Linked DNA regions of Homo sapiens. The protein of the gene in region 1 interacts with the protein of each later gene in a biochemical or structural test. Each region holds a gene or a part of one and is shown on either strand. Other genes may lie near its edges.

Region 1 (4,024 bases):
GCCCAGCCGTCAAAATACATTTATATGTAGTATAACTGAAATTTATGTCAGCTCAAAGATAAAAATTCATGAAGAAATTTTAAGCATATTAAAGTGTTCAGATTCAGAAGTTCATGAAAATAAAGTTATAATTCTATGAATAGTCTACCAGCCAGAGAGTGCTCCATGTTGAACATATATTTCCTTTCTCTTTTTTTTTTTTTTTTTTGAGATGGAGTCTGACCCTGTCGCCCAGGCTGGAGTGCAGTGGCACAATCTTGGCTCACTGCAACCTCCGCCTCCCAGGCTCAAGCAATTCTCCTGCCTCAGCCTCCCAAGCAGCTGGGATTACAGGCGTCCACCACCACATCTGGCTAATTTTTGTATTTTTAGTAGAGATGGGGTTTCACCATGTTGGCCAGGCTGGTCTCAAACTCCTGACCTCAAGTGATCTGTCCACTTTGGCCTCCCAAAGTGCTGGGATTACAGGTGTGAGCCACCATGTGTGGCCCTGAACATGTATTTTCTAAATGATGTTTGCCTCGAAAGGAAGCAATTGTTTGGCAACCTTGTTAATGTGACCTATTACTACTAGACTTCTAAAAAGTGAAATTTGTCAAAAGGACATTTTTTAGTGCAACTGAAGGCAATATCAAGCAGTTTAAATAGTTGTTGATGCTTATGCTATGTACTGTAATTATTTACATATATTTACTATCACAGAATTTATAAATGATACAAAGTTTTTTGAAGACAAGATTTTTGATTCCTTACCAATTTAAAAAATAACAAATACAATTTTAAAGGTGGCAGGAAGGTCTCCAAACAGAAAAGAAAACAAGAACTAATTGTAGGTTCCTTAGAGAGATTTTAAGATTATTCTTGCTGAAATTTTTACTTAAAAAAAAAAAAGGCACCTTTTTCAAAAGCAACTTGATCCCTGCCCCCACCCCTCACCCCTACCCCAACCCAAGTTACAAGACTTCTTCCTACGGGAAGAAAAGCTAGGATAGATTCGCTTTTGGTGTTGTCGGTTGTTTTTTTAACAGATGAGGTCTCACTATGTTACCCAGGCTAGAGTGCAGTGGCTATTCACAGGCACTATCATTGCGCACTACAGCTTTCAACTCCAAGGCTCAAGCCATCCTCTTGCCTCAGCCTCCTGAGGAGCTGAGACTACAGATGCATGCCACAGCACCCAGCTGTTTTTTTTTTTTTAAAGTCCTATGAATTTTTCTGAATCTGTCATGTTTATATGACTTATCTGTGGGCAACCAAAAGAACAAATTAGGAAAAAAAAGAACAAACGAAAAACCTCTTCAAGGTCTAGTTAAGCTTAGTTTACCACTCCCGTACCCCACACCACAACCAAGACCATGTGTCTTTATGGTTGTGATCTAAGAATAGATACACATAATAGTTAAAATGCCTCCCAGTAGTTCCTTGTATCTGTCGATTTAACTGCAGTATTTTCATTAAAGATAAGAGCATCCTGGTCCATGGTATATCAACTGCCTCACAGGGCTGCTGGGAGGATTAAATGAGCTGATTATACGAAGCACTCAGTATGGATTTGAATCATGGAAGCTATAAGGCTGATGTGTGGGAGTTAGTCACTTAGTGAGTAAGAACACACACACACACACACACACACACACACACACACATCCAGCAACTGCAAGTCAATTAGCTGTATTCAAAATTTGGGCTTTCCAAAGATCTCTAGATAAGGGTCTGACATATATCAGTAACTCATATTGCTCCTCAAAGTTCTACTTAAATAACCACTAAATAACCAAAGTTCTATCTGAAAAACTTGCAAACTACTACTTTGGGAATTGAATTTGTATTGGCCTTAAACTAAAAAAAAGAAAACACTTATGCTAATTTTTTTCCTTACATAAGGAAGGTAACTTTATGTCATCTCTGGTGTTAGATATAAAATCACTCTGAAATAAGGAGAAAAGCTTTCATATCTGACTCTTAAATAGAGTCCAAAGTTTTAAAAACAGATCTCAGGTGCTGGGGAAAAAAACAAACACACAAACAAAAACTATAATGACAGTTAAAGAAAAAAGATTTCCCCCACAAGTTATAGGACACATGGACTCACACGCCTCCACCTTTCTAGTCTGCATGTGGCCCACAATATCACTCACCTGAATTTAGGATTTTCAACTGTCACTACTCCAACTTCTATTTCTGAAGGTTTGAAATCAATTGATAGAACAGTAGACAGGCATGTAATTGCAGTCTGAAAAAAAGTATTTAATGTTAAAATATAGTATTTTTTAGAGATTCCAAGGTTTTCTCATTCCTAGCTTATTCAAATCATGAGTCAATCAGGAGCTCCATGTTTCAATGAGGTAGTTCAATGTTACTAACAGACTGCTTAACTCTAATGTATTGCCTCCCAATGATGAGAAATTTTTTTCTACCAAGTCAAATAATAAAGGGGTCCATTAATTAAAATAGGATGATTTATACAAAAAGGTTTATTGGCTTCATGACCCAGGCACTACACTTCACTTAGCACTTGGGGTGAAATGGGAAAAGGATAAAGATGAATGATACTCTCTGCATCTTCAAGGAATTTACAGTAAAAACGATTTAAGAATGTTTTAAGTGTTGTTTGTTTGTTTTGTTTCTGTTTTTTGAGGCAGAGTCTCACTCTGTCGCTCAGTCTGGAGTGCAGTGGCGCCAGCCTGGCTCACTGCAACCTCAGGCTCGTGGATTCAAGCGAGTCTCCTGACTCAGTCTCCTGAGTAGCTGGAATTACAGGCGCCTGCCACCATGCCCGGCTAATTTTTGTATTTTTCATAGAGACAGGGTTTCGCCATGTTGGCCAGGATGGTCTCAAACTCCTGACCTCAGGTGATCTGTCTGCCTCCCAAAGTGCTGGGATTACAGGTGTGAGCCACCTTAAGTGTTTTTTTACCGGATGTGGTTATTTATGTAATTAATTATGAATTGCAATAAAAGAAACCTTTAAGAAATATTTAGACAGGGCCCAGTACTTCCTGAACATGAACTAGCTTTTTATCTCCTTTAAGCATACTTCCAAACCAAACGTAAAAGCATTAGATGGTAATTTTTTTTTGGTCACTTATCAGAAGCATGTTGTTAGCATCTTCAGAATGGCTTTAATTCCAGACTTACACCCAAAATCTACTAAAATTTTTGTTTTTAATTTCTTGGCAGTAAATAGGACTGGCCTCGAACACCTAGACTCAAGCAGTCCTCCAGCTTCAGCCTCTCAAGTAGCTGGGACTACAGGTGTGTGCCACCATGCCCAGCTGGTTCCTATTTTTATTTATATTTTCCTATTATATGCGTTTTGTTGAAAGCCACCTCAAATACATTACGAAATAAGGAATTAAGTGAATAAAAGCAACTCAAATTTTCCTATGTCAGCTGTATGATATCAATTTCATTATTAAGTTGACAACTTGAATCCTGGGATGTAATTCAGGAATAGCTTTGTATAGAAATTATACAAAGATCCTCACTGTTCTATATAGCATAAAAAAAGTCAGCTCCTTTTGGTTGACTTACTTCCACTGTCTGTTCAAATGTCCAATCAAATTTCTTCTTCACTTTTTTTTCAAGGAAGCTGGTTGACTCAGTTTGTTTAACTCCCGCTGCAGTGGCTTTAAACCCACAGTAGTAACCTGCAGGATCACACTTATATACCTGAGGGCCTTGCTCTTCATCTATACCAATTAAAATCATACCTAAAAAGAGAAAAGACCCTAATTAAATGTTTTAGCTTTATACAATGACATCTCCTCTTTCTTGGTGGTGTCACATAGCTGCTGCTAATCATGACTTTGGCCATCAATTTTAGGATATGTATTTTCCTTTAAGAAAACTGATAAAATACAGGTTATCACCACAGGTAAATTAGGTAACAGGTAAATTCCCATTTCACAAAAGGATTTATCACAGATTAAAAAAAATAGTTTGAATAATTACAAATACAATTTAAAAATAGTGTTTCCAATCCTTGCTGTTATCCAAGCATGTTTATTTGAACCCTAATCCT
Region 2 (4,240 bases), on another chromosome or scaffold:
GAGACTCCATCTCAAAATAATGATGATGATAATAATAATAATAATAATATAAAATAAAAATAAATAACTATCTTGAACTGGCAGGTAATAATAAAAGTGGTAGTGGTGACTATAAATCCAAAATAAGTTAAAAAAAATCCCTGCTCCTGACTCATGATTCTTAGAAGAACCAACTAATGATTAAAACTTTAAAAAGCTCAATATATGCAAATTGACCAAGGGGTTAAAAAAACAATATAAATAATCTCTATGTATTCAAGATGTGTAATTGGCAACAATTTAAGATTGATTAACAGGTGGACCCTAGAGGGGGAAAGGAACCTTTAGTGAATTTCTGGCCATGCCAGGAAGAATGTAAAGTTTAAGCAATTATTTCCTATTAGCCCTTGCTAATTTCTTACTACAAACTCAATAAACATTGTTAAATCCATCTACTTTGAGATACATCTAGCACCAAATGCCACAAAGTCAATCACTTCTGCCCTCAACAAGCTTCACCACTTCACCAACTCTCTGTCCTAACTTAGATTAACTTTTTTTTTTTTTTTGAGACAGGGTTTTTGCTCTGTCGCCCAGACTGGAGTGCAGTGGCATGATCTCGTGATCTCAGCTCACTGCAACCTCCGCCTCCTGGGTTCAAGTGATTCTCCTGCGTCAGCCTCCGGAGCAGCTGGGATTACAGGTGCCTGCCACGACACCCGGCTAATTTTTGTATTTTTAATAGAGATGGGGTTTCACCACGTTGGTCAGGCTGGTCTCGAACTCCTGATCTCAAGTTATCTACCCACCTTGGCCTCCCAAAGTGCTGGGATTACAGGTGTGAGCCCCGGTGCCCAGCAAACTTTTTTTTTTTTTCTTGAGACAGAGTCTCACTCTGTTGCCCAGGCTGGAGTGCAGTGGTGCGATCTCAGCTCACTGCAACCTCCCTCTCCCAGGTTCAAACAATCCTCCCACCTCAACCTCCCGAGTAGCTGGGACTACAGGCACTCACGCTTGGCCTTTTTTTTTTTTTTTTTTTTGGTATATTTTTGGGTAGAGACGGGATTTTACCATGTTGGCTAGGCTGGTCTCAAACTGCTGGCTTCAAGTGATCTGCCCAACTCAGGCTCCCAAAGTGCTGGGATTACAGGCATGAGCCACCATGCCCAGCCTAGTTTAACTTTTAATCATATATTCAATTGTATTCTAATAGGGGCTGAAACAACTTGGGATGGGAAGCAAATATCAGAACATTCACCAAGGAAGGGTATACAATGGATAAAAGAGTTTGACCTTAAGTAGTTTTACCTCTTCTTCTAAATCTACCACTTGCTGTTCCAGCTCACTCATTCGAGCCTTCTTTCGATCTCTGGCAGTCTGAGCTGCTACTCTGTTTTTCAGTTTCCTAGGAAGAGAAGGAACATACCACACTGAGTCATATCAAACCTTATTTATGTCTTTATTTGAAAACTTTACCAGCTGGTGCTTTCATTTTTATTTACAGTATAAGACAGACTAATGATAAAATACACTTCAGGCTCCTCCCCTCAATAAAACAAAATAAAAAATACAGTCTTCTGTCAATCTAGCTCGAAGACCTGCTTTATTCTCTCCTATATTGCATCATCCGTCCACCTCAGACTCATCCCCGTCACAGCACTGGGGCTGGACACACACACTATTCATCTTGCATCATAAGGAACTTTCCTCTTTCCCCATCTATTCCCCCGCTGCTTCCTGTCTCCAGTTCTCTTAAACAGGATCCAACCTGGCCTCATTAATCTAGTGAAGGCTGCAATCTTGCTATGACATCAACCCTCCGTCCCCCAGTCCAATTTAGAAAAGGGAGAGGCTGATGCCACTCCCTGATCTCTAGTGTTGAGATCCTAGGCAGTGACCTGCTGATGGGTCCGTGTCTGTTGGAGGAGACACTTTTTTTTTTAAAAGAATTAACTCAGAAGAGACACTTCATAAATCACAGAAGGCACAATGATCACAAAAGAGTGAACATTTACGGAGGACTAAGTGCTAGGCACATTATATCCAAGTCTCAATCTCCCCAAAGACCTCATGAAGTAGGTTCCATTTTAAGAACGCAGATACTGAGCTAGACCAGTGAGCCTCGCAGAATTCCCAGCCCTTTCAACAGCTCTGTTATTTCAGCTCCGCGCCTCTCCAGAAATAGCAGTAAACCAAAACAGATTATTCGACCTCATGTCCGAGTTAAGAGGCTGAACCACCAGTCTGCGGCCACACAGCAAGAGGGCCTGGAAGACAGGTGCCCGCATCCCCAGCTCTGGTCATCTCTAACGAGAGAGTTAAAAAGTACAGAAAAGAGCCCTGGGCCGCCCTAGGTTCCCAGCGTGGCGGATCCGGTCAGTCCGGGCTTCCTGCCCCGCCCCGCGCCACGCTGGCACCGACCCGCCAGGCCAAAGGCGACGGAGCCCTGCGGGGCGGCCAGTGCTGGGTCCCCGCTCCCAGCCCCTGCCCCTGCCCCTGTCCCTAGTCCCGGCTTCAGATCTGGCCCCAGACCCCGGCCCCTCGCCCACCTCCTCAGCGCCTTCTCCTCGGGGCTCAGGTGCGTGAGGCGCTGTCGCTTGCGCGCCTGGGGCAGCCCCCCGCTCGCTGCCTCCGGGCTGGCCCCTCTCTGGGCTGGCACCATGAGCGGCAGGGCCTGGCCGGCCGGGGCTCCGGCGGCGGAGGCGGGCTGCCCCGACAGAAGCAGAACTTTAGGGGTCCCGTCGGCCGGGTTCGGCGCGGCTGCCACCACCACCATAGCTCCAGACTACGCACCGCGCACCGCGCGCCGCAGCCGCCCAGCGCCCAGCCTCGCCGCGCCCGGCCTTTCTACGGTCGTGGCCCTCCGCGATTGGCCAGCGTCGCGTGACGCACGGCCGAGCTCGGCGTCCATTGGTCCGGCCTGCCCGGCGGGGCGTTTCAGGACCGTGGCTATGGAGTCCGGCGTGGCAGCGGCAATCCCTGGCCAAAGGTACTTGGGGTCATTTTCCGCGGGGGGTTACGTGCGGGAGCGTGTCCTCCACAAACGGATTTTCCCCCCTTAAGCGGACTTATTTCCATCCGGAGTGACAGAATTTAATTCCAAACCGAGAGCTTTCCAGACTGACGAATTTTTACCGGGACTAACAGAGAATTACCTCAGCCTGACAACATTTTATCTCGTGCGCCACTTCGGGATCCGAGTGGAGCCGAAAGTCGAGATAGAGCGCAGTTGGGCCTTGGGTTCGAAAAGACTGGACAGAGGTTTCAGTGAGCCGAGATCGCGCCACTGCACCCCGGCCTGGGCGACAGAGCGAGACTCCGTCTCAAAAAAAGAAAAAGAAAAAAGCCTGGAAAGAAATTCTGCGGAATAGAAGTCTTTAAGAAATGAGATCGTGCCCTTTAAAACTAAGTTTAACAATAGTGAGGGCTTAATAAACGATAGGTGTTATCTCTGGGTTGGAGGGGAATACCTTCAATTTTAGTTTTTCGTTCCATTTCTAAAGTTTGTACTATGAGCGTGCATTTTTTTAAATTTAGTTTTATTTTATTTTTTAAATAGAAACGAGGTCTCACTGTGTTGCCCAGGCTGATCTCGAACTTCTGAGCTCAAGTGAACCTCCCGCTTCGGCCTCTATTATTTTTATTTTATTTTTTTTTCTTATTTTTTGAGACGGAGTCAGGCTCTGTCACCAGGCTGGAGTGCAGTGGCGAGATCTCAGCTCACTGCAACCTTCGCCTCCGGGTTCAAGCAATTCTCCTGCCTCAGCCTCCCGAGTAGCTGGGACTACAGGCGCCCGCCACCACACCCGGCTAATTTTTTGTAGTTTAGTAGAGGCGGGGTTTCACCGTGTTGGCCAGGATGGTCTCCATCTCCTGACCTCGTGATCGCCCGCCTCGGCCTCCCAAAGTGCTGGGATTACAGGCGTAAGCCACTGCGCCCAGCCTCTTGTTATTTTAAATGAGGGGACAGGAAAACGTCACATGTAGAGACTGAGACCCCGGGGTTGACCCTGAGCCCCCTCTCCGAGGGGAGGTCGAGGTTCCTGCCTGGCCATTGTGGCGTGAGGGTGGCCAGGTGTTTGTGAAAGAGGGGCCCCCAGAGAGCAGCACGGGAGCGATTTATACACACGAATATTAACATGGAGAAGTCCGAGAAACCCCCGTAAATATGCCTGTCCACTTTTTTTAAAGCAAATTACAAAATGTGAAATTCCCCAGAAATGCACAGCAATACCTTCTCTAACAAGTAATTATTGCTTCC

What was found.
Region 2: the proteins of PSMA6 (region 1) and XBP1 form a complex in vitro, tested with the Homo sapiens proteins (one study listed by IntAct).

The regions. Positions count from the first base shown.
Region 1 is NC_000014.9:35,312,570-35,316,593, reverse strand, and holds part of PSMA6 (proteasome subunit alpha type-6), read right to left. Parts: intron 3,714-4,024; coding exon 3,535-3,713; intron 2,234-3,534; coding exon 2,139-2,233; intron 1-2,138. UniProt on the Homo sapiens protein: Component of the 20S core proteasome complex involved in the proteolytic degradation of most intracellular proteins. This complex plays numerous essential roles within the cell by associating with different regulatory particles.
Region 2 is NC_000022.11:28,797,770-28,802,009, forward strand, and holds the start of XBP1 (X-box-binding protein 1), read right to left. Parts: upstream 2,801-4,240; 5' UTR 2,756-2,800; coding exon 2,529-2,755; intron 2,309-2,528; exon of another isoform or gene 2,268-2,308; coding exon of another isoform or gene 2,191-2,267; intron 1,385-2,190; coding exon 1,288-1,384; intron 1-1,287. UniProt on the Homo sapiens protein: Functions as a transcription factor during endoplasmic reticulum (ER) stress by regulating the unfolded protein response (UPR).